4 linked regions of the Homo sapiens genome follow. The protein of the gene in region 3 purifies or fractionates together with the protein of the main gene of each other region. This does not show direct contact. Each region holds a gene or a part of one and is shown on either strand. Other genes may lie near its edges.

The links.
Region 1: the proteins of FLCN (region 3) and AGAP3 purify together in Homo sapiens (affinity purification with mass spectrometry; 2 studies listed by BioGRID and IntAct, with this or other methods). This does not show direct contact.
Region 2: the proteins of FLCN (region 3) and ZNF609 purify together in Homo sapiens (affinity purification with mass spectrometry; 2 studies listed by BioGRID and IntAct, with this or other methods). This does not show direct contact.
Region 4: the proteins of FLCN (region 3) and PGK2 purify together in Homo sapiens (affinity purification with mass spectrometry; 2 studies listed by BioGRID and IntAct, with this or other methods). This does not show direct contact.

The regions. Positions count from the first base shown.
Region 1 is NC_000007.14:151,089,258-151,096,564, reverse strand, and holds part of AGAP3 (arf-GAP with GTPase, ANK repeat and PH domain-containing protein 3), read right to left. Parts: exon of another isoform or gene 6,400-7,307; intron 1-6,399. UniProt on the Homo sapiens protein: GTPase-activating protein for the ADP ribosylation factor family. GTPase which may be involved in the degradation of expanded polyglutamine proteins through the ubiquitin-proteasome pathway.
Region 2 is NC_000015.10:64,456,182-64,463,577, reverse strand, and holds the start of ZNF609 (zinc finger protein 609), read right to left. Parts: upstream 3,001-7,396; 5' UTR 2,740-3,000; intron 2,555-2,739; exon of another isoform or gene 2,411-2,554; intron 1-2,410. UniProt on the Homo sapiens protein: Transcription factor, which activates RAG1, and possibly RAG2, transcription. Through the regulation of RAG1/2 expression, may regulate thymocyte maturation.
Region 3 is NC_000017.11:17,233,862-17,241,418, forward strand, and holds the start of FLCN (folliculin), read right to left. Parts: upstream 3,308-7,557; 5' UTR 3,051-3,307; intron 2,823-3,050; exon of another isoform or gene 2,615-2,822; intron 1-2,614. UniProt on the Homo sapiens protein: Multi-functional protein, involved in both the cellular response to amino acid availability and in the regulation of glycolysis.
Region 4 is NC_000006.12:49,784,988-49,791,823, forward strand, and holds PGK2 (phosphoglycerate kinase 2), read right to left. Parts: upstream 2,299-6,836; 5' UTR 2,201-2,298; coding exon 947-2,200; 3' UTR 673-946; downstream 1-672. UniProt on the Homo sapiens protein: Essential for sperm motility and male fertility. Not required for the completion of spermatogenesis.

The sequences.
Region 1 (7,307 bases), on a different chromosome or scaffold from region 3:
GGAGGCAGAGGTTGCAGTGAGCCGAGATCGCGCCACTGCACTCCAGCCTGGGCGACAGAGCGAGACTCCACCTCAAAAAAAAAAAAAGAAAAGAAAATTTAAGTTCACACGTGTGACTCGCCCATGTCTACTGCACAGTGCTGAATCAGAGAAAAAAACAACAGGCAAAACATCAAAGATGACCCTGGGTGTTCACGGGAACGTGCAGGCCCTGTGACAGCCCTGCCCCCTCAGGTCCCTTCCCCTGGGCCTGGATGAGCTAAACCAACGTACCCCACACTCTGCCACCTGGGCTCTCAGGCTCGGGTCCGGAAATGGTCATTCCTGTGATCTCATGCAGCCCTCACCTCACGCATCCCCACGCAGGCGGTGATGACAGCTGAGCCTCTGAGACAAGTAATGAGACAGTCGCCACCCAGCACGCACATCCTCAGGGCAGCTGCTGCTCTAAAAGCTCTGCAGACGTTAACTGATTTGCTTCTCACGCCCACACCATGAAACGGATGCCCATGTTTTACCAATGGCGAAGCTAAGACACAGAGGGGTTAAGGAACTCACCCGAGGTCACACAGCTCCCAAGTGGTAGGTCTGGGACTCAAATCTAGGCAGCCTGGCTCCAGAGCCCAGGTGCTTAACCTCTATTCTATTCAGGCCCTGAGAGAAGAAATGAAGGCCAGGCTTCATTCCACATCACCCAATATAGAACCATCCAGAACAATCTAGAAGTAATAATGGGGTGGCAGGGGGGCAGGGGGTGCTGCCTCAGAGTGATGGAAAGCCTCCAAAACGTCCCAACTCTTCTCAAACAAAGGCTCTGGGGCTTGCCTTTCTGGTATCTTTTTTTTTTTTTTTTTTTTTTTTTTGTACAACTGTGATTGGACAAGACATTTAGAGCATCTTTAACCAAAACCTCCTCCAGGCACAGAAGTGCCATCCACCAGTGCCTGGAAAAACCCAGGCCCAGGAAGGGGTGGGGATCCCAGCAGAAGCAGAGCAGAGATCCCTGGAGGGGTCTAGACTTTTCGGTCCTCCCTCTGCCCCTGTGACAGGCTTTGATCCCACTCCAGGCGCTGGGGTTTCAGGTTTGCAAGCCATCAAAACACCAAACTGAAAAGGCTAAAGGGAAGCTGCTGTAGGCAGGCACCCCTACGGCGGTAAGGAGGGGTTCTGGCAGAAAAGGAACAGGCACAAAGCCCTAAGGTACAGCCATCTGGGGCTACGGTATGGAGCGGGCACAGCCAGCCTCAGCCTCCTGGGTGGCCCAGAGGATGGCACTGTCTGCTCAGCTCAGGGCACATTGAGGCCGAAGTGCTGACTATGGGAACTCAGACAGTGCCTGACTTGCAGCAAACAGAGAAATGTACGTTGTAGAAAAACCTACATTAAAAGAGATTAAAACGGTCTTCAGCTCAATAAGAAAAAGTAACATTGGGAGGTGGAGGCAGGAGCATCACTTGAGGCCAAGAGTTTGAGACCAGCCTGGGCAACACAGACCCTGACTCTACAAGACAATTTTAAAAATTATTAGCCAGATGTGGTGACACATGCCTGAGTCCCAGCTACTCAAGAGGCTGAGGTGGGAGGATTGCTTGAGCTTAGGAATTTGAAGTTGCAGTGAGCTACGATCGCGTCACTACACTCCAGTCTGGGTGACAGACCAATATTCTGAGGAAGGAAGGAAGGAAGGAAGGGAGGAAGGGAGGAAGGGAGGGACAGAGGGAAGGAGGGAAGGGAGGGAGGAAGGGAGGGGAGGCCAGGCATGGTGGCTCACACCTGAAATGCCAGCACTTTGGGAGGTGAGACGGGAAGATCACTCGAGGCCAGGAGTTTACAGCCAGCCTGGGCAACATAGTGAGACCCCATTTTTACAAAAAGAAAAAAGAAAAAGAGGAACAAACCAAAAGTAAAATGAATAAAGGATATGTACAGAATGAACAAAATGCAAATGACCTCTCAAAAATGTTTTAATATCAACTCTCACTAATAGTCAAAGTGAATCCAATAATGAAATAGCTAGTGATCAACTAGTAATCAAAGTCAAACAAAGTAAAACAACGAGAGTCATTTAGTCTTTTTTTTTTTTTTCTTACGTATCAGATGAAGAAGGGGTGCCGGGGAAGTGGGGCAGGGAACTCCAGGCTGTCTCTATGCCTGAAAATCAAATGGCCTTTCTGGAGGGCAGGGTGCCAGAGTGCCGCAAACGTCCTAAAAATGTGCCGACCCCAGAGTCTGACCATTTTCTTCTGAAAATTTGTCCAAAAGCAATAACGAGACAAGCGTACAAGGCGGCACGTAATAAACAGCATTCCCTTACACAGGATACCCTGCCGCCTTTCAGAATAATGCCTGATATTTCACCTGTGCTTATGACACGCTAGGCACTGTTCTAAGCACACCGCGTTGGGGGTCTCAATCCTCAGCACTACCAAGCGGCAGAGCTTTGTTATGACCCACCTCAGGTAAGGAAACAGAGGTACAGAAAATCTCACCTCTCCCCACAGGATCTCTTCTGATTCTCAGCTCCTGGAGGGCTCCAAGGGGGGCGCATCTCAAAGTGCTGCATGACAGAGGCAGCCTCAGAACAGATCTCAGGGACCCCAGCTCAGGTGCTCACTTGACAGACAAGACCCCCGGCCAGGGAGCCAAGCCTGGCCTGTTCCAGATACTCACGCCAGGGTCACCCCTAGCTGCATAGACAACCAGAATGTGACTCTCAGAAGACGCACCCAGAGCAGACTTGCCCCAGCTCTCACAGCCAGTTAGTGGCAGAGCAGGGACGGGAACCCAGGTATCCTGACTCCCAGCCTAGGAGCTGCCAAATACGCAAATGAACACGGGAGCCTCCTTTTGTGAATCTCCGGCTCCCCTTCTCCCAGCAAAGCATTTTCCACAACAATCCCACGTTTGCTGCGAAAGCCTAGTAACAGCAAATCCAGCAAAGAGTCGTTAATAGAAAAAAGACCAGAAGGATGCACATCCGACTGCTCACCACAGATCCTCCCAGGAGAGGGGAGGCCGGGCAGCCACCTTCCTACTTCTACATTTGAATGGCTTGTAACAAGCATGTATTTACTTTCATCCCTTAAACACATTAAAATGAAATTTAAATTAAATACATATTTGGGCACGGACGTGGTGGCTCATGCCTGTAATCCCAGCACCTTGGGAGGCCGAGGTGGAAAAATTGCTTGAGTCCAGGAGTTCAAGACCAGGCCAAACAACATAGCAAGACCCCATCTCTACAAAGAATGAAAAAATTAGCTGGGTGTGCTGGTGCATATTTGCAGTCTCTGCTACCTGGGAGACTGAGGTGGAAGATCGCTTGAGCCCAAGATTTTGAGGCTACAGTGAGCTAGGACTGCACCACTGCACTGCAGCCTGGACAACAGAGGGAGACCCTGTCTCCAAAAATATATATACACACACATATACATACATATAATACATACATACATATATATGTTTCTTGAGCAAGCATCTGTCTATTGTACGCTACATCCGTGCTACCCATGGGAGACAGACGCCTCAGAGAGCCACCATTCAATTCAGTTGGGGATTGAAGACGTCCAGAAGAAAATTATAGTGGGGAGCAGAAGAAAATTATAGTAGGGAGCAGGAGGCCTAATTCACCCTAAAATTATATTCTAAAGGCTTCCAAGAGTTAAACTCTGGTCCATTTGACTCCCATAAAGTTTCCTGTAGAAGCAGCTTTTAAGGGCTGATGTGGTGTGGCCAACAACACTTATTCAGCCCATACATGCAAGGCAAACCACAGAGACCTGGAGTTGGAGAACCAGAGAAAATCCCTGCTTCCTCCCCTCACTGCGTGGCTTCAGGAAAGTTACTTAATCTAGGTCCTAGGCTGTCTCACTTGTGAAATGGAAATACTTGCAAATCCAAAAAAGACCCTCCTCTGGGAAAATAAACTATGAGATGCAAAGTGTTGCAAAGCCTCATTCCAACCCCCAGCAGTGAGCCTGGCAGAGGGAAGAACATTCACGGGTGGAACATGCACCACCCAATCTCTGCGCCCTCAAAGCACGTGGCTGGGCTCACCCCCCTTCCCTACCTCAACTCTGCGCTCCAAAATAAGCTCCCTTACCACTTGGCCTGCAATGGTTTAAGTCAGCTAGGGGTCAGGAGGAAAGCATCAGATTAAACTAATTTCCAGTTACCTGCATATTAAAAAGAAACTAACACAACAGGTGGATGTTTAGGCAATGCCACACACGGACATGGGAGTTCTTACGGGGGTGTCTGTCTCCCCCCAGCCTTGGCTCTCCCAGGCTACACCTGCTTTCCAAGAAGCGTACCTCGTTCCCTCCACTTCTGGGCCAGGGACGCACTGACAGCTGGTAGGGGGCTCACAAGCACAAACGAGCGGTGTGGATGCTGGCGTGGCTCAAGCCTTCTCAAAGGCTTAAACGCTTGTGACGCCCATCTTTCGCAGAATGACGCACCAACTCCTGCGGTTTCTAGGAACACGGCAGGGTGGAAATAAATACTGGAGAAAGCATGAAATACTCCTTCACCAGGGTCCTGCCCACCTCACCCACCCATCTCCTACAACTCAACACCCGAGCTGCAGAGTCCAACTTGCCGTTCCGAGAGCCACACTATGTTCTCCTGCCTCCGTTATCTTCATCATCCTGTTTCCTCTATGTGGGAATCCTCCGGACCCCCAGGCCTGGCACACGTTTGAGGAAAGAAATAAATGATACAGGAAGATTGCCAGGTGGCATCATAGGGACAAGGACTGCTTCATCTGTGGGGTACCACTGCTGGGGAGAGCCAGAGCTGAGACCCTGGATGGAGCAGGGTACCAGGGGTTCCCACGAGGCCATGCAGCCTGAGATCAGGCTGGACAGGTCTTCCTGTTCTGGCTTCTGACCCGGAAGAAAGAAGTCGTGATGAGGTTTCCCAAGTCTCTGACCTTTGCCCTGCCCTGGTCTTCTGAAAATCTAGGTCTCCTTCTGGACTCCCAGTGCCTCTCTGGCACCTCCTACAGGCTGAGTCGTTCTCTCCAGGTGCACCAAGCCCAGACCTTCTGGCCCCTTCGCTCCCTGTCTCTCCTTTGATTGTCTGCTTTTCACTGTGCTAGATGCAACTGGGCCGCACAGTAGGAGCTAAATGAATGTATCTGGAACAAATGAAGCTTTCCCTGGCTACTAGCACCCACATGGTTATGCTCTTTTTCAGAATTGCTAGAACTCTTGCGAGCAAAGTCCTGCATAAGCAACCAGGCCCCCATGAGACACTCAGTCCCTAAACCAACGAATTGCCAGAGGGGCCTGGGCTGGCTCCAGATGCATGTCCCCGGCACCCATCCCAGACCCCCCCAGTCCTCATCTTTGAAGGGAACCTCAGCAGTGTGTGGTGCAGCAGGGCCCACGGCGGAATGCAGGGCCCGGCCAGGGAGTGCCCACCCAGGAACAGTAAGGAAAGCTCAAGAGAGCACCCTGGCACAAACATGGGGACCATCATGCCAGTCCTCCAGGATCAAGTCACAGGACGAACAGAAACAGACACAAACACTAAAACCCCAGGTGTGCCTAAGGGCTGAGGGCTGTGGGATGCCAGGGCGTATGCCGTTTTGTTTTGTTTTGTTTTTGTTTTTTTTTGAGACGGAGTCTTGCTCTGTTGCCCAGGCTGGAGTGCAGTGGTGCGATCTCAGCTCACTGCAAGCTCTGCCTCCCAGATTCACACCATTCTCCTGCCTCAGCCTCCCGAGTAGCTGGGACTACAGGTGCCCGCCACCACGCCCGGCTAATTTTTCGTATTTTTAGTAGAGACGGGGGTTTCACCATGTTAACCAGGATGGTCTCGATCTCCTGACCTCGTGATCCGCCCGCCTTGGTCTCCCAAAATGTTGGGATTACAGGCGTGAGCCACTGTACCCGGCCACATGCACCGTCTTACTCTCCCTCTGAGCTGCCACCCAACTGCAGTCACAGCTGTGGCCCCTTCTCTGTCTAGCTGAGGCTTGACCCAAACAAGAAACCCCCACATCTCTTTACCTTAGTCCCTTTAGGATGTCACCAAGCCCACAGCCCAGGGCAGGCAATCTGTGAACTGAATGAAAGTGAGTGGGGTAAGGGTGACAGTGAGAACGCTCTGCTGGCCAGGCCAGGCCGGCTGGAATGCTCGAAGTAACTGTTTAAAAAAAAAAAAAAAAAAAAAAAAAGCCCTAGTGGGAAAACGATGGAGAAACCTGAGTAAGTCACCCAGCTGACAAAGCCCAGCTCCGGCACACATAATAGTAGCCATATGGCACACACACCTAATAGTCAGGTCCACTTCCACTTCCAGGCGGGAGCCCCCCCCCCCCATCTGGGAACTGCCAGCAGGGATCCCAGGCCCTCCCCAAGCCCCTGCTCCTCCCCTGTGCCGGGCCCTCACCTGCACACAACGACTGGGACCAGCAGGTCCTGGAAAGATCCCGGGCTCCTTTGGGGCTCCTGGCTAGCTTGGTACAACATCCTGCGCTCCACGTGCCCAGTGTCCCCATTTGGACTGAGGCCCTCGTTCTCCTGCATCCCTCTTTCTAGGACTCAGCCAGGAAACCCAAGCTGTCAGGGAGCGCTCACTGCAGGTGAGTGCCAAGCCGGAAGCGGGCTCCTGTTGAAGGCCTATACTCTCCCTGGCTGTATCCGCTTGGCTCCCTCCCTTCTCTGAGCCTCAGTTTCCCCACTAGTGAGGTGAAGGTGGCTCAGAGGCTCTGCACATAGTGAGCCCTCCAGCTCTCCCTCCCAGCTGAAGGCTGTACTTCTTCCACTCCCTAAGGCCAAGTAATGGGCAGGTTTTCTCTTTCCTTGGCCTCTGGTGGGAAAGGAACTTTTCAAAATGGTCTCCCTCTCCTCAAATCCTGTCCTGAAACACAGGAAAGCCAAACATCCCCTGCTTCCTCCTGTCCTGGACACGGGGTCAGAAGTGACTGTGAGTGGCAGAGACTACAGGAGGCCCAAGTGCCCACTGCACTTCCTCAGAGCCAGATGGATCCTGACCGCAGGTCCCACGTCACCTTCAGAGCTGGGACAAACAAACCCTTCACCGAAGTCTAAACAGAGTGAGGGAGGCTTTGTTATACACTCGGAACTGCCGCCCCTTTCCACCGAGAGGCTTAGCCCCAGGAAACACAGGACCCGGCTCCCAGCTGACACTGTGTTTATGTAACAGCCTAGGTCTGTTCCGCCCTGGGGCTGGGGGTGGAGGGCTGGGTCTCAGTCCAGCCTCAGACTGTGCTCGGAAACGCCCAGGGAGTCTGCGCCTCTCCCTCCTCGCAGAAAGAAGGTGGGGACACCGCTTCG
Region 2 (7,396 bases), on a different chromosome or scaffold from region 3:
AAGTTCTTATTCAACACTATCCTATGGGAAATGATTGGCTATTGTGTACACAGCACATTATATACAATTCCCCACTCACAATGAGTTTTACTTCTAATCTCTTTTTAAAGAAAAGTTGTATTTAATGTCCTAAATGGAAACCTCTTTTCCAGGCCCCAAATTTTTTTTTTTTTTTTTTAAAGACAAGGTCCTGCTCTATCACCCAGGCTGGAGTACAGCGGTGCAATCACAGCTCACTGCAGCCTCAACCTCCTGGGCTCAACGAGATCTTTCTACCTCAGCCTCCCAAGAAGCTGGGACCACAGGCGTATGCCACTACACCCAGCTAACATTTTTTATATTTTTTGTTGAGATGGGGTTTTGCCATGTTGCCCAAGCTGGTCTCGAACTCCTGAACTCAAGCGATCTTCCCACCTCAGCCTCCTGAGTAGCTGGGACCACTGGCATGTGCCACTATGCCCAGCTAGCTGTATTTTTTTAAATTTTTGTAGAGATGAGTTCTCACTATGTTGCCCAGGCCACTCTCAAACTCCTAGGCTCAAGTGATCCTCCTGCCTCAGCCTCCCAAAGTGCTGGGATTACAGGTGTGAGCACCATGCCTGGTCCCAAATAATTTTTTACACAACTAATAGTACATAAATATTATTTGAGCACTTCTATCAGATATGTACAATAGGATTCCTTCTAGTTTGTTCTCATCCTTCTCTCACTAATAATCCCTAAGACCCATACATTTTTTCAAAAATGTTTATTTCTTTGGCAAATTTCTTAATACAGAGGCAGATATAGACTTTTGCACAATGAGCAACTCATGTCCTTTCATTAGAGTTAAAATAAATATTGAAAGGTTTGTTCCCACAGCCCTTGCCCAGATAGGCAAATTCTGTGGCTTTTTTGTTGTGCTATTATTATTGACCAGGAAGCCACCATTAAAAAGGTACTTGGTTCTTGACTTTTTTATTTTTTATTTTTAAAGAAACAGGGTCTTGCTTTGTTGCCCAGGCTGGTCTTAAACTCCTGGGCTCCAGCCATCCTCTGGCTTCATTCTCCCAAAGTGCCAAGATTACAAGCATGAGCCACCACACCTGGGCTTGACTCCCCATCTTAACACTGCACAGGTTTTTAGTGGTATTCGGAAACAAACAAAAATCACTGCATGAGTGTTCCATTCATATAAAAGAATTAAATATGATGATTCAACTAAGAGTAGAACCTTCCCTTGAAGTCTTCTTCCTTAAGGGTCTGAAACAAACATCGTAGTTGAGTCTACCAGACACTATTCCTTCACAACTTAGTACAGGCTAGCCAAAGAGGCAGGCACAACATGGCTGGCATCCCTTATTCTTCTGAAAAATGTGTGCCAATGAGCTCTGCATTGTTCCTCACTCAAAAAGAAGAGCCTTTCTCTCTGGCCTCCTCCAATGGCAAGCCCCAGTCTGGAAAAGGAAGAAAATGGCACTGAGGAGCCTGGGAGATGGAGCATATCCAAAGCTCTCAGACAAGACTTGAACCTATGACCTTCACTGTGTACACAATAGGCGGGTGAGAGGGACCGGTTTATCTCTGCTGCAGCAGTTCTCAGCCCTGGGGTAGCGCTCCCGATAAAATGACACGACTATTGTGTGTGGCAGCAGAACAGTCATCTCCTCACAACAGCCTAAACCAGCACTCCCTCCCCCAAGACAAAGCAGCAGGGGTGAAATTAACTCAAGGCTGCAGAGCAAAGCCTAATACAGAAAAGGGAGGCCTGTAGGGGCTTGGGGACTCTCCTCAACCCCTTAGGCTCTGGACACATGGCTGGAAACAGACAGGCTTTCTTCCCTATCTTTCTCACTCTCATTTAGGTAGGGAGCTGTTTCTTAGAGAATTTAATCATCCGTGATTTGTTCAGAAATATTCCCCCTGAAGGGCTCTGATCTCTCCACCCTGTGTGAGCCTAATTCCTCGAAGCTGAAATGACTGTTTGCTGCTGCCTGTTTCACAAACACACATTAATTGGTCAGATGTGTCTCCTCCTCCTCAACCCCAGAGGGAGGAAGGAGAATCTGAGCAAAGCACAGAGATGATCCAACCGTAATTACACATAAAGGGAAAAGAGGGCAGCATGGGTTTTCCAAACAGGATAGGGTCACAAACCCTCCCGGGGGTACAAGGATAGCAGTTGAGGTCCAGGCCCAGGGATCCCTCCATCTTGAAGAAAAGGACAGGAGTAAATGTGACCTGAAGACTGTTAGGGGCACACACCCACAACCTACTTACTGCAGGATCCCAGCCACCTTGCTCCCCACTCCTAGGTCACGCACACGTCCTGCTTCCGACCCTATGCTCTGAACAACCACCACCGCCCCCGCCCCCCCTCCCCCGCCAACTCCCTGACTGGCCCCAGTCGCCCCGAGCGCCCTCAACATACCCAGACTCGCCTCAGAAACTCTCTGGCCTGCTCCCATAACCTAGCCAGACCCTAATCCCCTCCCGGGCACCCCTACCCTCAGCCTGAACCGGCCGTGGCCACGCTTTGAACTTCACCCCGCGCCCCTCGACGCCCCCTCCCCCACCCACGCAACGACCCCCCCTACACACCTTCCCCTCGCTCCGCCCCAGCCCCCCCAACCCCCACTTCCTCCGTCAGGCAGCGCCGCCGCCCCCGGCCCCCATCAGATCCCCTCAGCCCCGCGCCCCATCGGTGCCGCCGCCTCTTTCCTCCCCCAGTCCCGGCTCCACACAAAGCTCCGGACTCACCGCGCGGCCGGTCCCGGGAGCCGCCACCTCCGCCCGCCCGGGGCCCCGGGCCGTAGAGCCGCCGCTGCTACGGGGCCCAGGCCGCCATCCGTTCCCGCGGCCCCTCCCCCCCACCCCACCCCGGCTCCGGCTCCGGCTCCGGCTCTGGCTCTCTGCCCCCTCCCCGCGCCTCTCCGCCCCGCCCGGCCGGTGCCGCTGTGTCCGGGGCCGCGGGTCCCTCAGCCGCCGCCACCGCCGCCGCCGCCGCGATCCGGGACAACCAGAGTCACCCGGAAGACGCGGACACTGGACTGCCAGGCCCTCGGATCCGGATTCCGCGCTTGTGTGGAGTCTGGAGCCGGTGAGCGCAGGGGAAACCCGGAACCTGGATGAAGGAGCGAAATCCTGGGTCTCGGAATGCGCGCTCACCCGGAGCCCAGATTAGGGAGTCTTAGCTCAGGGAATGCTGGAAAACCCGGCGTGCCGGTTAGAACCAAGATAAACTCAAAGAAACCTGGATTAGAGAGCTCGAACCTAACGCTGTCCCCTCGTGGGCAGTAGAACTCTCGCTGGATCAGACTTCCTCATAGAGAGGTCTCTGGGGGGAGTATTGCACCTTATAACACAGAAGACACCTCTTCTGTAGTTGTCCTTCAACCACAGAGAGGAAAGGGCCGTAGGGGATCTGAACATGGGCATCCACAAAGAACAGAAGAGCAATCACAGCTCCTGATGGTTTCATCCATTTTACCCCTTAGTTCAGCAAAGTACCAACCTCCTAATTTTTTATCCTTTGTTCTCCAGCTTTCTCTTTTAGGATTACCACTTGCTTTTCTCCCCAAAGCACCCATTTCTAATCCCTCTATATATCCCTTTTCCCCTCACCATCCTCTATCACTAAATCTTGTTGCCTTTTATTATCTAAAAACCTTATTCTGTCCTTCTCCAACCCACCATTCTAAGGATTGTAGCTTTTATTTTTCCTTATCTGCTATTCATCTCTGATTGCCCAGCATACTATCTAGTGCACAGTAGGCATTCAGTCCATGTTTAAGTGAGCCCTCCCACCCAGCTTTCACTTGTGAAACATCTATTCATGACGACCTCCTAAGACTTCCATCTCATTCCATAGCAAACAAATTTACCTTAATTCTCAAGGCCTCCCACATCCTAGCCCCTATTATGTCCTTCCTGTGTCCTTGACCATTTTATTTTGCTTTGCATTTATCTTACCTTTTTTCCCTTATCCTGGGGCATCCTTCAACAGTGCCACTCAAGATAGCATGTGACTTGGAGATAAAGTGAGGTCATAAAAAGGTGGGGGGAGGGGTTGATAGCTAAAGATAAAAGTAAACCTTTCTGGTCTAGGAAAAATAATCTCTCTTTGGTCCACCAATAGTCATGTTGTTAGACAGTACAGGGGCAGAACTGATCCCAGGTGACAGCGAACTTCCAATGTATACTAGACAAAGTTACAAGTGAGGATTCAGCTACTTAGCAGGTGGAGACAGAGAAGGGTTTAGTGTTTTAGACTTAGGCATGATTTAATTAAGGATTAAACATTCCAGTAGTCATCTCCCACTGAAGGAGCATGACTCTGCCATTGGAGAGAACTAGACTGCAAAAATAGGGAACAAAGGAAGGTAAACATTCCTGCAGTGAACTCCAAGTTTCAGCCAGAGAAAGTTCTCAAGCCTCGAAGAACCACTAAAAATTTTCAAGTGATCAGATGTCCCACATAGTAAACAAACCTTAAGTTTTGATTTACTGTTCCTCTAGACCAAGGGTTGGCAAACTGCATCTCACAGGTCAAATCAGGCTCACCACCTGTTTTAACATGTCCCATGAGCTAGAATGATTTTTACATTTTTAAACAGTTAAATAATCAAAATACTATTTCATGATGTGAAAATGATATGAAATTCAAATTTCAGGCCAGGTGCGGTGGCTCACGCCTGTAATCTCAGCACTTTGGGAGGCTGAGGCGGGCGGATCACGTGAGGTCGGGAATTCGAGACCAGGCTGACCAACATGGAGAAACCCCGTAAAAATACAAAAGTAGCCGGGCGTGGTGGTACATGCTTGTAATCCCAGCTACTTGAGAGGCTGAGGCAGGAGAATCGCTTGAACCCGGGAGGCGGAGGTTGCAATGAGCCGAAATCTTGCCACTGCACTCCAGCCTGGGCAACAAGAATGAAACTGTCTTAAAATACAAACAAAAAAATAGTTTTATTGGCTCTAGCCAAGCTCATTCATTTACATTATCATCTATAGATGCATTTTTACTACAACAGCAGAGTTGAACAGTTGAAACAAGGACTGCATGGCCTGTGTAAAGCCTAAAATATTTGCTATCTGACCCTTTACAGAAAGTTTGCCAACCCCTGCTCCAGACAAGCACTATCCAACAGAACTTTTTGCAGCGATGGAAATGTTCTATATCTGTGCTGTCCAATGCAGAAGTCGCTAGCCACATGTAGCTATTTGAGCACTTGAAATATGGTCAACAGTGACTGAATAACTGAATCCTTAATTTCATATAATTGAGATTTTCATAACCACAAGTGGCTAGTGGCTACCATAATAGACAGTACAGCTCTAGACTCTTAAATCTTCTGTACTGATGTTTTTTTTTCTCCTTATGCCACTATCTCACTCCCTTCCTGTGACATTCCTCTATGGATTCTCAGGAACTCCCCACCACCCCACTGTTCCACAGTCCCACTCACTATATACACATCCATTTTTCTGACCTCAAGCTAGGGTACACTTACTAGGTTGTCTCTCTGGACTCTCCATTGTCACAAATGAAGTCTGAAAATGGATCAGGTTATCAGTTGTCACCCTATGAATTAAGCCACATTATGTACATACACATAAATGGACATTTACACAAGTTCATTTGTGTCAGAGGATGGCACTGAGGCTGTATTCTTTCTTCTCTGCATGAGAGAAGTAGAAAAGCCCTCCACATGCTGGATGCCTTGTTGCTGCTGGTGCCTGTGGTATGGATCACCTCCCTCCGAACACATTCACAGAAGCTCAGAGCAGCAGATGTATGCTTGGCTACTTGAATCTCTAGGAAAAAAAATTCCTTCATCATTGGATTTTCTGTCCCTCCCCAGGCCTAACAAACTGAAGTTCACTGATTTCTTTAGTTTAATAGATGCTTGCTGTTTACTCGTCTTTTTGAGCTGACTTTTTGAGAATAACTCCCATGCTGTCTTGATCTTGGCTAGGTGCATTTTTAAAATTTACTAAATTAAATGAAATCCACATAAATGGGCTTTGAAGTCTAAATTTTTCACACTTACTTCCTAGGAAAAAATGAATTTATGTAAACTTCTGACTTAAAAGAGGGGATACCTAGTTTTCTTTTTCCAGATTAGCTATAGCAAGAAACAAACAAAAACCCTTACTCTATTCCAAACATCTAACTGCAAAGCCAAGGCTTCCTACATTTGATCTTAGCCAAAAGGCCGAGAAGCAATAAAGCCAAGGCTTCCTAAACCCCGTCAGAGAAAGTCTCCAGTTTCATATATCCCCCTACTCTGACTTTATATAAATGAGACTGAGTCCTGCCTGGAAAAACAAAAACAAAAACAAAAACAAAAAAGCTGAAACCTTTAGGCACTATACAAATTGACAGCAATTGAACCCAACTATTCAAAAGTGGGTACAGATATTTAGACTGCAACAAAAAACCAGCTCAGAAATGTGAAACTTCCTTTAGGCCACACTGTCCCAGAGTTACACAGTCAGAGCAAAGTGTTGTAAAGTCCTAAAAGGCTATTCCTGGGCAAGTTTGCACTCAGGCTGCTAAGAATTTCCACTAGGCTTTAAATTGTGCTATTCATCACTGAGCAACTGAAGGCCATCTACCCCCAAGTTTCTCCCACACTTCCTCCCTGGTGTCTCCACAAATAAAAGAGAGACCTTATACCACCACCACCATATGAACTAAAGACAGACTTTCACAGTCTAACCATGAAAAGGAGAAGTTTCCATGTTATTCTGCCATTTACTAATGAGGCTCCAGTTGCATATTTTGGATGCTGAGGTGGGTTCTTGTAAACTTGTGAAGTTCTTGTAAACTGTCTTATCTCAGCACACAAAATGGTTGCATAACCTGATCTGTCACAGCTCCTGATGTTTTTCTTTCGGCATGCACACAGTCTATCCAGGAGAAAAAAATCAATCCAGACACCTCTATGCTCAGGCTGTTGTTCAAATAAACTTTTTTCCTCCCTCCCTAGGCTCTTCACCTCCTGTCTTCTAGTTTTATTTTGGTATTAAGAGAGCCAGACAACTCCAGCATAGAATTCAAGGTGCTACTGCTTAGTAAACTATTAGCTGCATAGTGAACCCAGTATGGCTTCATTAATAGTAGGGTCTGCAGGAAGCCAGAAAGAGACTCCCCCGACATGCCCCCTGCCAAAGAAGTGGACATTAGCAGTCCTTTCCCCTTTCTCCAGAGGTTGAACAGAAAAAGAGAATACTACATGTTTGCATCACCGCAACAAGAATCGGGTGGGTTTTCCCTGGGAATCCAGAGTGATCAGGCCCTGCAAAACCAATGCCTAGAGCTATGCAACAAGCAGGGTTCACAGTTGAGTGAACATCAATGCATAATGAGTGGAGGCATTTCAATGCAAATAAACGCTGAATATGAAGGATT
Region 3 (7,557 bases):
TACAGGTGTCTGCCACCACACCTGGCTAATTTTTGTATTTTAGTAGAGACAGAGTTTCACCATGTTGGCCAGGCTGGTCTCGAACTCCCGACCTCAGGTGATCCACCTACCTCAGCCTCCCTAAGTGCTAGGATTACAGGCATGAGCCACTGCATCCAGCCAAGTCCCCATCTTTCTTACTCTTGGTTATAAGGGGGTGCTCTGGCAGCATCTACATCACACCAACTTACTTTTCAGGCCATAGGCCTGGCAGTTTCCTTCTCAAGCAGGAGAGGGAAACCAGAGGCAACGCTGACAAGCCACTTCCCAGCACCCAGAGCCAACATGGGCTACACTGTTTTGTTTTTTTTTGGTTTGTTTTTTTTTTTGCGGAAGGGTCTCATTCTGTTGCCCAGGCTGGAGTGCAGTGCAGCAATCTCGGATCACTGCCACCTCCGCCTCCCAGGTTCAAGCAATTCTCCTGCCTCAGCTTCCCGAGTAGCTGGAATTATGGCCGTGCGCCACCAGGACCAGCCAACTTTTGTATTTTTAGTAGAGATGGGGTTTCGCCATGTTAGCCAGGCTGGTCTTGAACTCCTGACCTCAGGTGATTCTCCCGCCTCCTCGGCCTCCCAAAGTGCTGGGATTACAGGCATAAGCCACCATGTCTGGCCAAAACATGGGCTACTCTTATTCGTTTTTCCTTTTAATGAAAAGCACTCGCTGGGTGCAGTGGCTTAAGCCTGTAATCCCAGCACTTTGGGAGGCCAAGGAGGGCAGATCACCTAAGGTCAGGAGTTTGTGACCAGCCAGGCTAACATGGTGAAACCCTGTCTCTACTAAAAATAGAAAAATTGCCGGGTGTGGTGGCTCATGCTTGTAATCCCAGCACTTTGGGAGGCCGAGGCAGGCGGACCACGAGGTCAGGAGTTCGAGACCAGCCTGGCCAACATATTGAAACCCCATCTCTACTAAAAATACAAAAATTAGGCTGGGTGCGGTGGCTCACGCCTGTAATCCCAGCACTTTGGGAGGCCGAGGTGGGCAGATCACGAGGTCAGGAGATTGAGACCATCCTGGCTAACACAGTGAAACCCCGTCTCTACTAAAAAATACAAAAAATTAGCTGGGCATGGTGGCGGGGGCCTGTAGCCCCAGCTACTGGGGAGGCCGAGGGAGGAGAATGGCGTGAACCCAGGAGGCACAGCTTGCAGTGAGCTGATCGCACCACTGCACTCCAGCCTGGGCCACAGAGCAAGACTCCATTTCAAAAAAAAAAAAAAAAAAAAAGCCAGGCATGGTGGTGGTGCATGCCTGTAATCCCAGCTACTGGGGAATCTGAGGCAGGAGAATTGCTTGAACCTGGGAGACGGAGGTTGCAGTGAGCTGAGATCGCACCATTGCACTCCAGCCTGGGCAATAAGAGTAAAACTCCATTTCAAAAAATACAAAATACGAAAATTAGCCAGGCCTGGTGGCACGTGCCTGTAGTGCCAGCTACTCAGGAGGCTGAGGCAGGAGAATCGTTTGAGCCTGGAAGCGGAGGTGGCAGTGAGCCGAGATCGCATCACTGCACTCCAGCCTGGGCGACAGAATGAGATTCTGTCTCCAAAAAAGAAAGAAAGAAAGAAAGAAAGCAAAAGCACTTGTCAGACGAGAGCTCTGACTCTGACTCCATGGATCATGTGCACCAGAGGCCCAGGCAGCCCCTGAAAGAGAGGGAGGTGCCCTACAGAGCACTTAGCTTTGCGGTCACCGGAGCCTGCCCTCACCAGCCAGGTGACACCAAGTGTTACTAGACCTCTCTGAATACCACCCAAAAGCTGAGAAACAGAGGCCTCTCAGAATTCGCATTACACATGGAATCAGAATTCTGGGCAGCGTGAGGTCATTCTTCACTCACTGTTCAATTCCAATCTCTACCAGGTGTTTGCTGAAGAAAACAAACTGGTTTGAGTGTGTCTCACGAGTCTGTTTCCAACAAGCTTTCCAGAACCCACATAGGAAGCCGAAATGCCCTGGCTGACAGTCTCTTCATCAACATATCCAAAGACAGTATTCAAATTCCCTGATGTGGTAGAGTGTCTGTTCATGTCCCCCTCCCACAATGGCTGAGTCCCAGACCTGGACAGTGACCTCACCACCACCCGTGGTGCGCCCTGGCCCTATTTCAACCCTACTTCCTATGGTGTTCTCATAGCACCGTGGAGAATTAAAGAGGCCACTAAGTAAGGGCACTCTAAATAAACAAAGCACTATAACGGATCTTAACCAGCAGTGGACACACAGCTTCTATAACTAGTCTCCCACTGGGGAGCCTCATTAAGTTAGCAGCTGGGATCCCAACAAGCCCAGGGTGAAAAGTTCTGCAGGGGATGACTGCCAGTTCAGATCCACTCTCACTGTGGCTCTATTTCCACCGTTTCCCTGGATTTCCATTCACAGAGCTCCCTGACATAGGACACTAGAAGGGCAAACGCAGTGTCACCTGCCACTATTACTCAATTACTTGATGACCACGGTGATAATCTGGCACTAAACTGGCTGTGGCCAAAGGCTAGAGAGCCAGAACCTACTTCCAGCAAGCTCCTCCTTGCCCTGTGTCCCCACTTGAAGAGACTGCTAGTGACCACACCTTGGACTTCAATCCACAAGCCAATCCATTCTTTCCAGGAGACAAGGACGCGACTGACAGTACTCTCAACTGGAGAGAAGCGCGGTCTTCCACCCTCCCTGGAGGACACGGTGCTACCCTATTAGCGCATCAGAGGACCCTCCTGAACGCCAAACTGGGAGAAGAGGATGACACACACCCTCTCCTCCAAACAGAGCGAAGACAAAACCTGGGAGAAGGGAAGGCAAACAGTCCCGTTTCATGGCAACATCAAATGAGATCACAGTCCTCATCCCCATAGACTTGGTTAATGGGCGTGCCCCCAACCTATCTTCAAATCTCAGGGTCTCGGCGACGCCCTGGACTCTGGCCCTAAACCCTCCCCCATTACTCGTCCACCTGGGACCAACGAAAACTCGGACATGCCCCTCCGCCAACCCCTCAGACCCCCGCCTACCTGCTCCCCAAATCGAGGCCCGCGGGACACCTGGACTCGGCAGCCGGGGTCCCGCTCTGGGTCCCAGCCCCGCCCCTGACTGCGCTGGGTAGGTGGTCGCTGCGGGACCCGGACCGGCGGAATCACACCCAGAGCCCCCAAGCCCACGGCAGGGATGTCACCCGGGGTGGCGAGGCTCTCAAGCCCGGGTTCAGGCTCTCAGGGGAGCTGGCAGAACCAGGAGCGACCACACTCACTCGCGGTCCCGCAGCCCCGCCGACACCCAGGCGCGTGACTCCCTGAGCCGTACCACCACCCAACACTGCGGTGGGGGTGCGGGAGCCGTCCGAGCGCGTCCTGCACCGCGAGGAGAGCCGGGCCTCCCTAGCTCTCGCAAGCCCAGGAACACAGTCCGAGTCCTACAACTCCGAGGTCTGACTGGGAAGCAGGGGCCGCTGCCCGACAATTACCCTTTTCCACCGCCCCTATTCCGGTGCCCCCCTCTGGGAAGTTCCGAATGGTTCAGACCGCACCAGCTGGGGATGCTGGGGGAAACCATTTCATTAAGCGCGGGAGTATGCTGAAACTTAAAAATCATTTTAAAAAGAGATTTGAGGGTAAATATAGCCAACCTAAGGCTTCCTGTCCACATAAAAGAGAAAAATAAAGAAAAAACGTTATAAGAGGTTGGCAGGCTTTTTTTTTTTGCTTCACCAATGGTTTTTATTAAATTGCTGATGGAACCCGTCCTCTCCCTACATTGAGAGTATGGAAGGTGCGGGAGACGGCCGTCACGTGACGCGGAGAAGGCGCGGCGCCCGTGGGAGGTTGGTTGCAGAACTCGGAACCGCTGTGCGCGCGCATGTGTGGGATTCGGTCTTCCTCCCTCAGTGGGTCTTTTTTAAAAATGTGAAAATCAGTTTTTGAATAATATTCTTTTTTTGAGACAGAGTTTCGCTTTCGCTCTTGTTGCCCAGGCTGGAGTCCAGTGGCGCGACCTCGCCTTACTGCAACCTCCGCTTCCCGGGTTCAAGCGATTCTCCTGCCTCAGCCTCCCGAGTAGCTGGGGACTACAGGCGTCCGCCACCACGCCTGGCTAATTTTTTGTATTTTTGCAGAGACGGGTTTTCACCCTTTTGGCCAGGCTGGTCTTGAACTCCTAACCTCAGGTGATCCACCAGCCTCGGCCTCCCAAAGTGCTGGGATTACAGGCGTGAGCCACCGCGCCCGGCCTGAATAATATTTTTTAAAACTAGAGCGCCCATTACTAAATTTAGCTACTTAGAAGTTAATTGTAAAGCCATTAGTTTGTGATGTAGTGTGGGTCCTTCCAGTGAAGACCGGAGAGAGATGGGAATCAGAGCCTGACCCGCCTGTGCGCGCTGCCCCCTGAGGTGTGGCTGCCCCCTGAGGTGTGGCCGCCCCGGAGCCTTCCGCCGCGGCCGAGGCTATGGTTGCCGCAGAGTCTCCAGAATGTGCTCACCAGGAATAGAATAGAAAAGTGGGTGGTTGTGTTTTTGAAATCAGAAGTCACTTATTTTTTTCTCTTTAAATTTCCATGTTCTGGTCGGGCGCGGTGGCTCACGCCTATAATATCCCAACACTTTGGGAGGCCGAGGTGGGCGGATTACGAGGTAAAGAGATGGAGACCATCCTGGCCAACAGGTGAAACCCCCTCTCTACTAAGAATACAAAAAAAATTAGCTGGGCGTGGTGGCACACGCCTGTAGTCCCAGCTACTCTGGTGGCTGAGGCAGGAGAATTGCTTAAACCCGGGAGGCAGAGGTTGCAGTGAGCTGAGATCGTGCCACTGCACTCCAGCCTGGCACAGAGCGAGACTCCATCTAAAAAAAAAAAAAAAAATCCATGGTCTGTTGAAAACGGGACACGAGAAAAGAACGAAAGTGCAGCTTGTGTTTTCTGCCGTCTTATAGTGGCTTGGTAAAGATTAAGGAATATGGGGTGGCGTTACGAGGTTAGGCATTGCCTTTATGTGTTTAATTATTCTTATCAAGCGAATTCCTCTTGCTGTTGGACAGCGCAAACTTAATTTCTGAGGAGGTAGTAAGTTACAGGGTGATTTTATTTTATTTTATTTTAGAGACGGAGTCTTGCTATGTCTCCCAGGCTGGAGTGCAGTGGCGCGATCTCGGCTCACTGCTACCTCCACCTCCCGGGTTCAAGTTCTTGAAACTAATGTTTGTTAATGAGATTTTTAAGTCAAGAACAAGGTTTTTTTCACCTTGTAACTTTAATTCCAGGAATTACCTTTTTCAGTTTGTTAGTGGAGTTCACCACCTTGCTCAGATTATCCTTATTTCCATGGTGATAGGCTAATGGCGGAAGGTTATTCAACTAGTGTATTTTCAGTAAAAGTCAATGTGCATTTACCACACCTGGGCTCAATTTAGGCCATTAACATCTTTCCCAACACCACTGGCTTCAGCCACCTACCTCTTTTGGAGGTACTTTCTTAAATAAACCTATAAATCTTTAAAAAAAAAATTAACAACTGCCAAATCTTTGCCTCAGTGAATTGTACCAAAGGTTATTTAAATTGGGCTCTCATGGGGTATAAAAACTTTCAAGGTCATGCAACAAAAGGGACATCTTAGAAGTCGGAAAATGTGCCCATTCTCATGGGAAAGATAATTGAAACTCAGCAGTAATGTTCAGAAAGCACAGATACCAATAATGTTCAACAATTCACAACCAAATGAAATGCAATGCTAATCTCAAAGCTTCTATCCCATAATGGAAATTGTATGAAATGATTCCAGAAGCTCTGGATATGTTACTGCCTGGCATGCATACAATCCAGAATGTGTTTTTTCCACCACTGAAACAGGCTCAATCAGAATTAAGATTTTTTTCCACCACTGAAATAGGCTCAATCAGAATTAAGGTTTTTTGATGCTTTTCTGCCTTCTTACTACTGCTAAACCAAGAGGCTTCATTATAGCTGAGTATCCAAACTGATCAATCACTTCCAAGGCATCAGTTGCCAGGACCATAGAGCCAAGTGGCAGGGAAAAGTCACATCTTATTCAGAAATTTGTTTTAGAGTTTTTTATATGTACCCTTAGCCACAGGGGCTCTGATGTAGCTGTAGGATACAGCTGGGCTTTATCTTTCAGTCAAACCACATGTCAATGACTCTTAGTTTCCAGTTTCAGGAAGAAGGGGTGTATTTCATTTGTAAGCATTTCAATTTAATATTTTTAATCACATCTCATATTTTCAAGTTACTATAATTGATTCCCTGTTATAAAAATAATGATCTAAGTTTTTGTTTCTTCCAGCAACTGAGAAAACATTCCGTTTTTAGATGTTTTGAACAGTTTAGGAGTCTGGCCAGCTGCTGAAAGGCAGCAAGCAATGAGTAACATTTCAGAAGGTGAGATAAATGCACAATTTCTTTTTTTTTTTTTTTTGAGACGGAGTCTCACTCTGTCGCTAGGTTGGAGTACAGTGGCGTGATCTTCGCTCACTGCAACCTCCCCCTCCCGGGTTCAAGCACTTCTCCTGCCTCAGCCTCCCGAGTAACTGGGACTACAGGCGCATGCCACCAGGCTCAGCTAATTTTTGTATTTTTAGTAGAGACGGGTTTCACCATGTTGGTCAGGCTGGTCTCGAACTGCTGACCTTGTGATCTGCCCTCCCAAAGTGCTGGGATAACAGGCGTGAGCCACTGCACCCAGCCCATGCACAATTTCTTTCTTTCTCTTTTTTTTTTTTTTTTTCTTTTTTGAGACGGAGTCTTGCTCTGTTGCCCAGGCTGGAGTGCAGTGGCGCCATGTCCGCTCACTGAAAGCTCTGCCCCCAGGGTTCATGCCATTCTCCTGCCTCAGTCTCCTGAGTAGCTGGGACTACAGGCGTCTGCCACCAGGCCCAGCTAATTTTTTGTATCTTTAGTAGAGACGGGGTTTCACTGTGTTAGCCAGGATGCTCTCGATCTGCCTGCCTCGGCCTCCCAAAGTGCTGGGATTACAGGCGTGAGCCACTGCGCCCAGCCTAGCCCATGCACAGTTTCTAAGTTCAGGTTTTAGGTAATTAGACAATCAACTCTGCACATAAGGCATCCAGTCAGTTGCGAGGTATGAGTTATTAGTGGTTCAATAAAGGCCATTAGGATTAATTTAATATTTCTTACCATAGCAATTTCTGTAAGCTTTTAAAAATTAACCTCTCTCCACTAATTAGAATTCATCTGCTATGCCTTTTGTGTTTTAATCTACTACTAGGTGCCTATTAAATACCATGTGTTGACATTTTCGTCTAACAATCAACTATAGAGCCAGCCTATGGATTCAGACTTATTAAATGCTTTTTGCAATTAAAGTTCTCTGATTTCAGCCTTTGATGTTAGGAAAGGATACAGATAGGATTTTCTTTGTTCACTATCATTAAGTAATTCAGTTACTTAAAAAGATAGCCATCACATTTTCTTATTCACAGATACCTGATTTACCTAGTCATTTATTTTCTCTGGCCCCTTTGCAACTGCTCAGACTTAGGTCCAAATAAC
Region 4 (6,836 bases), on a different chromosome or scaffold from region 3:
GGAAAGGTTAATCTGCATTTTTACTCTTAATTACTATTCTTGTTAATAGCATTGCCCTAAACTACCTCTGTCTACAGAATAAAGCAAAATATTTTCCAATAAGTGTTTTTGTTTTTTCTACATTTCTTATCATTTTATCTTCTGTTTTCTAATAGAGAATTTTTATCTCTATTTTCCCATTATTAAACCAGCTATGTATATATATTTTATTTATCTCAAAAACCAAGTTTTAGAACTTACCAGTTATATTATCTATTTATTAAATAATGCCTGCCTTAAAAATAAAACAATTACTTATTTACAACTTGGGTTTAACTTGTAGCTCTTTTTCTAGCTGGCATTTGTGTGTAATCTTGTGCATTGATATGCACACAAACATAATTCTTACCTTGAGTTTAATTTCTTTTCTTTTTAAAAATTCCTTGGGTTTAATAAGTGTCTTTCATTTCTCTTTTTTTTGGTCCTATTTAGTATAACATTTCCCCTTAGCAGAACTTTAATGGTACCCATGAGTTCTTTATATGTAATTATTTTTCTCAGTTTATTTGGGCATATTTATTGTTTGTTTGTCAACTTTCATTCCACCCTTTCCCAACAAATTAAGTTTTATCTTTTGGGTTTCAAATTATGAAACAATAGCAAAGTTGGACTAAAATAAAAAGATTCAGTTTCTTCAGCTCACTTTCTTTAATAGGCAACTTAAGAATATGTCCTCCCTAGATAGCACAATGGTGAAGTTCAAATGAGAACTTGAACAGGCAAATGCGTGACCAAACTAAAATGAATTGCTGTGCTGATATTAAGAGTTCCTGATGGCCTGCTGCTTGTCCATTACATAGGTCTTGATCTAGGAGTAGATTTTAACAAAAGTCACATCGAGATGTAAAAGCATTAAGCTGACTTAAGGGCCATGGACAGAAAACAGAAGGAAGTAACACTATATTAACTACATGTTGCTGAGGGCCTCTACTCCAGGAAGGATTTTACCTTCCAGAAGCTCTAGACTGGCACCGCCTCCAGTGCTGACATGGCTGACTTTATCTTCAGTGTTCCATTTGGCACAGCAAGTAGCAGTGTCTCCACCCCCTATAACAGTGATGCAGCCCTTGGAAGTGGCTTTCACAATTTCATCCATGAGGGCTTTGGTTCCCTTAGCAAAGGCATCCCATTCAAATACTCCTAACGGCCCATTCCAAACAATTAGCCTTGCTTGAGCCACAACTTGAGCATGATTCTTGTTGCTCTCAGGACCACAGTCCAAACCCATCCAGCCAGGAGATATGCCAGATGCTACAGTGGCTTTTCCAACCTGAGCGTTCTCGTCAAACTTGTCCCCAGTAACAAAATCAACAGGAAAAGTAATCCTTACACCATTCTTTTGTGCTTTGGCCATGATATCTTTAACGATCTTGGCTCCCTCTTCATCAAACAGGGAAGCACCAATCTCCATGTTGTTGAGTACCTTAAGGAAGGTATAAGCCATTCCACCACCAATAATCATCTCATTGACTTTGTCCAGCATATTTTTGATAAGTTGGATCTTGTCTGCCACTTTGGCTCCACCAAGTATAGCCAGAAAGGGTCTCACTGGGTTTTCCAAGGCTTTAGCAAAGTAATCTAGTTCCTTCTTCATCAAGAATCCGGATGCTTTATGGGGCAGATTCACTCCCACCATGGAACTATGAGCGCGGTGTGCAGTGCCAAAAGCATCATTGACATAGACGTCCCCTAGCTTGGAAAGTGATGCTCGGAAGGCTTCTATTTTATCTGGCTCAGCTTTAATCTTCTTTCCAGAGGGATCTTGGCCCTTCCCTTCTTCCTCCACATGAAAGCGCAGGTTCTCCAGCAGGATGACTGAACCAGGAGCTGGGTTGGCACAGGCTTTCTCCACTTCTGCGCCTACACAGTCCTTCAGGAACAGAACATCCTTGCCCAGCAAGGATTTGAGCTCAACAGCAACAGGTGCTAAGGAATATTTGTCAGGCATGGGAACACCATCAGGCCGACCTAGATGACTCATAAGAACTACTGCCTTGGCTCCATTGTCCAGGCAGTACTTGATGCTTGGGATGGAAGCCTTGATCCTCTGGTTGTTTGTAATCTGGTTCTTCTTCATGGGAACATTGAAGTCTACTCTCATGATGACTCGCTTCCCTCTAACATCCAGTTTGTCTAAAGTCAACTTCTTAGAAAGAGACATCTTGACAATATAAAGACATAGGCTGACACCTGGATCTTAATGCTGAAGAACCAACTTGCTGTTGAGGGGCTGGGTCGGTGGTGACTTCTAACGCCTTTGCCCTTGTCCCGCCCCTTTCTTCTCCTCACTGTCTCCAGCACAACGGCCACTGTTAGACTGGAAAGCAAATCTAGCTTTGTGATTGGCTCATGGTCCTGTCAATCTCGATCTGAACTGTGTTGCTAGGTGAAGATTCCAACTTCCTGGGCAGAGGGTCATGTAGTGGAATAGAGCTGTACCTGGCTTCAGGCGAGACTTGGGTAGGTGAAGAAACCCCAGAATAAGAATGGTTCTAAAAAAACAAGAATAGTCCTGAGGTGTGCGCCGCCTTCTGGCTCTTTTTGCCCCCACCCCACAGCTCGGTTAACAGTTGCTTTTATTATTAAAAACAAAACAAAAAGAACTCCACCCCCACCCCCGCAAACCTACATACACCTCATTCATGTCAAATCTTAACCATTTTGATATGTAAAAACCTCTGCAGTGCCAAATAAAAGGAATATTTGAAATAATGATTTTCATATGAAACCTTGCTTATTCAAGTCAGGATAGTATAGTTCTGTTTTTTCCTTGTCTTGATAAATATTTCTTTGAGGATGTGGCTTGTTGTTAGTCTTCATCTTTAGATCTATTCTGGGACGTGGTGGGAATGCTGTCATATTTTCATTACTTTGCTTCTTCCATTTTCAGACTACCATGAAAGAATGTTTGGTCACTTCTGCAGGAGAATCCCATAAGATCATAGCAAAGAGAGTATCAGTAACAAGTGCTGAAAGTAATGGTGACATTTCTTTCAGACTACAATGTTATGATGAGGCTCCTTATTTTTTGTCTCCTCTCTGTTTGCTTTCCTACCTGTACAACTTAGAAATTGAGCTGAAAAATAAATGCATGGTTTTCATGAAGATGAAAACATATATTAGAATTGAAAGTGAGTAAGATATTCTATTTTTGGAGAAAGCAAATGTATGTGGCTAGTTGGTTTAGTAATGAAAATTGGCTTTACAGTTTTTTTCATTCTACTCCATAAGTTGAGTGAACTAAATATGTAAAATGAAGGCTTTGACAGAAATATATTTGAGGCATCTCCTATTAAGATGGCTAAAATAAAAAATAAAAACAAGTGTTGAGAAAGAAGTGGACAAATTGGAATCCTCATTTATTGCTGATAGGAATGTCTAATGGTGCAGCCACTTTAAAAAACAGTTTATCGGTTCCTCAATGTTGAACATCGAGTCAACAGCATTTAAAAGCAAACTTAAATGGTGTTAAAATATATAGTAACAGAAACTCTCATTTGTTGCTCCCAGGAATGAAATATGCTACAGACATTTTGGGAAACAGCTTGGCAATTTCTTAGAAATATGCATAGACTTACCATACAAGTCATCAATCCTATTTCTAGATATTCATCCAAGGACATCAAAAACCTGTATTCTCTCAAACTTCTGTAAACAAACGTTTAGAGCAGTTTTATTAATAATTACCAAAATTGTATATTCTTCAAGTAATAAATAAATAAACTGTGATATATCCATGCAATGGAATATTATTTTTTAAAAAAAGAAAAGAAACAAGCTATTTACTTACACAAAAGCCCTGGATAAAACTTAAATGTGCCTTACTAACTGAAAGACGCCAGGCAAAAAAATTTTGTAGTTATTGTATAATTCCATTTGTATGACATTTGATAAAAGGCAAAACTATAGGGATGGAAAACATATCAGTGGTTGCTACAGGTTAAGAGAGCGTGGTCAACTATAATGGGGATACACAGGAGGATTTTTAGTGTGGTAAACTTTTCTATGAGGTACTGGAGTGGTGGATACAACATTCTATGCACTTGTCAAAATTCATAGAATCGTACGTTGTAGAGAGTAAACTTTAATGAATGCAAATAAAAAATATGATCCAGAGTGTTAGGGAATCGTATTATATAATGTAGCCTCTGACAGATAAGCCTAACTGTATCGTAATATATAGGAAATTTTACTACATGTGATGTGGAAATTTTACTACAGGTGATGTGGACAAAAAAAGGAAATGACTTAAGTAACTTTGCAAAAGAGGTTTTCAGTTTGTAAAACTAAAGACAAAAACAGCTGTCCATAAATATAATACTCTAGTTGGTAAGTTTGAATATCACAAGCTTATAGGTGAATAATTCTTAAACTATTTGTGTTATTAGAGATAAACAAATAATGGAAGATAATTAAAAGTTTCTCACCGTCAGGAAAATAAATTACAAATAAGCAAGGGCAGAATGAACTCTGTGGTGCTGGATTAAGAGTCTGAGATATCGGTATGAACTCATATTAAGTTCAATATACACATAGGTTGATATGGAAAATAATTACAGATATATGTGTATAAATATGTGTTAATTTTCTCTTGCTACTGAAGCAAGTTGTCACAAATTTAGCTACTTGAAATAACACAATTTTGTGTTCAAAAACAATTCTGTAGGTCAGAGATTCAGGTTGGCTCTGCTGGTTTCTTGCTCTGGATTTCATAAAGTTTTGATGGCTGGGTTTTCATTACAAGGCTCTAGGAAGAATTTACCTCTAAGCTCATTTAGGCTTTTGGCAGGATTCAGTTCCTTGCAATTATAGGACTGAGCTACCTGCTTTTGGCTGGCTGTTAATAAACCCCTAAAGGCCCTCTCAGGTTTGTAGGTTCCTGTATCTGAGAGCCAGCAATGATGCATTGAATTCTTCTTACAATTGGAATCTCTCTGATTTTCATTTCTACTCCATCTGTTTTCCACTTTCATCCAGAGAAAATTCTCTGCTGTTAAGGACTCATTTGATTAAGTTGGGCCAAACTAGATAATACAGGATAAACTCCCTAATTAAATACTGTGATATAATTATATCTGCAAAGTCTCTTTTGTCATGTAGCATCAGTATTTACAAGTTCTGGGGAATAGGACATGGACATCTTTGGTGGGCCGTTATTCTGCCTACTCAAACAGGATTTTGATAAACGCAAATATTTTCAAGCTCTGTTCGTAAGAGGGCAGAGAAGCAGTGACTTATAAATAAATAAGTGGGGGTGGGGGAAAGGACAAAACTTCTCTACAGAGGAATTCCAAATAATGTATGTAGACACATTCCTCTACTAGAGGTGGAGCTTAATGGACTGTTTGAATGTAGTGATAAATAGATTCTGAGTATTCAAATTACTATTCACCATGATTTACAAATACTAGATTTGAAAGACCCAAAAGGAAAATATACTCTTCTGTTTTGGCACCTTTCTGTAAAGAAGATTTGCAGTGTGCTCTGCACTGAGCTAAACCACAAGGGCATTTTGTCACCACTTCCCCAAGATCTGTCTTCATGTAACAGCATCAAGCTCTGAGGACCTTGTCTTTCAAAATTAAAATCCTGTTACCACGTATCATCCCACATAGAGGCTGAAATGTCTTCTTGACTAAATCCAGTTTTCATCTATGTTCACAGTATCAATGTCTCTACGTTCTCCTGTTCTTGGACAGGTTTTCCAGGTTTTCTTTATGCAAATGTCCTCTGTTTCTCTCCAGGTCTTTTAAGGGCTGCTTACTTAGCTACTAGTATTTGCTCATGGTGGTGACTGATTAAAGTCTATGATGGAAAGATTTCATTATAGGTTATCCATTTTCTTTGAAAATTGAAACATGTTATGGATATAATCTATTATTCTTTCTATTAGGAAGCCTGTGAAATATTTGGGGCAGTTTACCTTCAATTCACCTTTCCATTGACAATGATTGTAAAATATGCAAATATATATTCCATACGTTATGCAGAGTTCTGGGTGCTGAAATGACTAATAATCTATAGGTATGTATATTCTCATGTACATATTGTGTCATTTTAGTCACTAATTTTTAATATTTCGAAACACACCAATCCTTCTTTTAACAATTTAAAAACAATTTTTAAATTGTTTATGAATTTGTAAATGTCCCTATTAATAATAGCAGCAAACTTCAATTTATGCATTTGAAAATGTTTCCATGAGTTTTTGGGATCATTGTAAAAGGTAGACTAAGGTGGCTGTATGGTGCTATCTCTCCCTTTCAATGGCGAAAACCGCTACTCTTGCGTCAACCTAATATATAACTTTTTACACAGTGCAGAATTAGTTTGAAAACAACATAATAATTCACACGATAACATTATGTATGAATTAGCCAATGCATTTCTTTTAAAGTATACTTTTTTGCATTTGTTCCTCCATCTACTTATCTATTCTTCTTTTTTTTCTTTATTATTATTATTATTATTATTATACTTTAAGTTTTAGGGTACATGTGCACAATGTGCAGGTTAGTTACATATGTATACATATGCTATGCTGGTGCACTGCACCCACTAACTCGTCATCTAGCATTAGGTATATCTCCCAATGCTATCCCTCCCCCCTGCCCCCACCCCACAACAGTCTCCAGAGTGTGATGTTCCCCTTCCTGTGTTCATGTGTTCTCATTGTTCAATTCCCACCTATGAGTGAGAATATGCGGTATTTGGTTTTTTGTTCTTGTGATAGTTTACTGAGAATGATGATTTCCAATTTCATCCATGTCCCTACAAAGGACATGAACTCATCATTT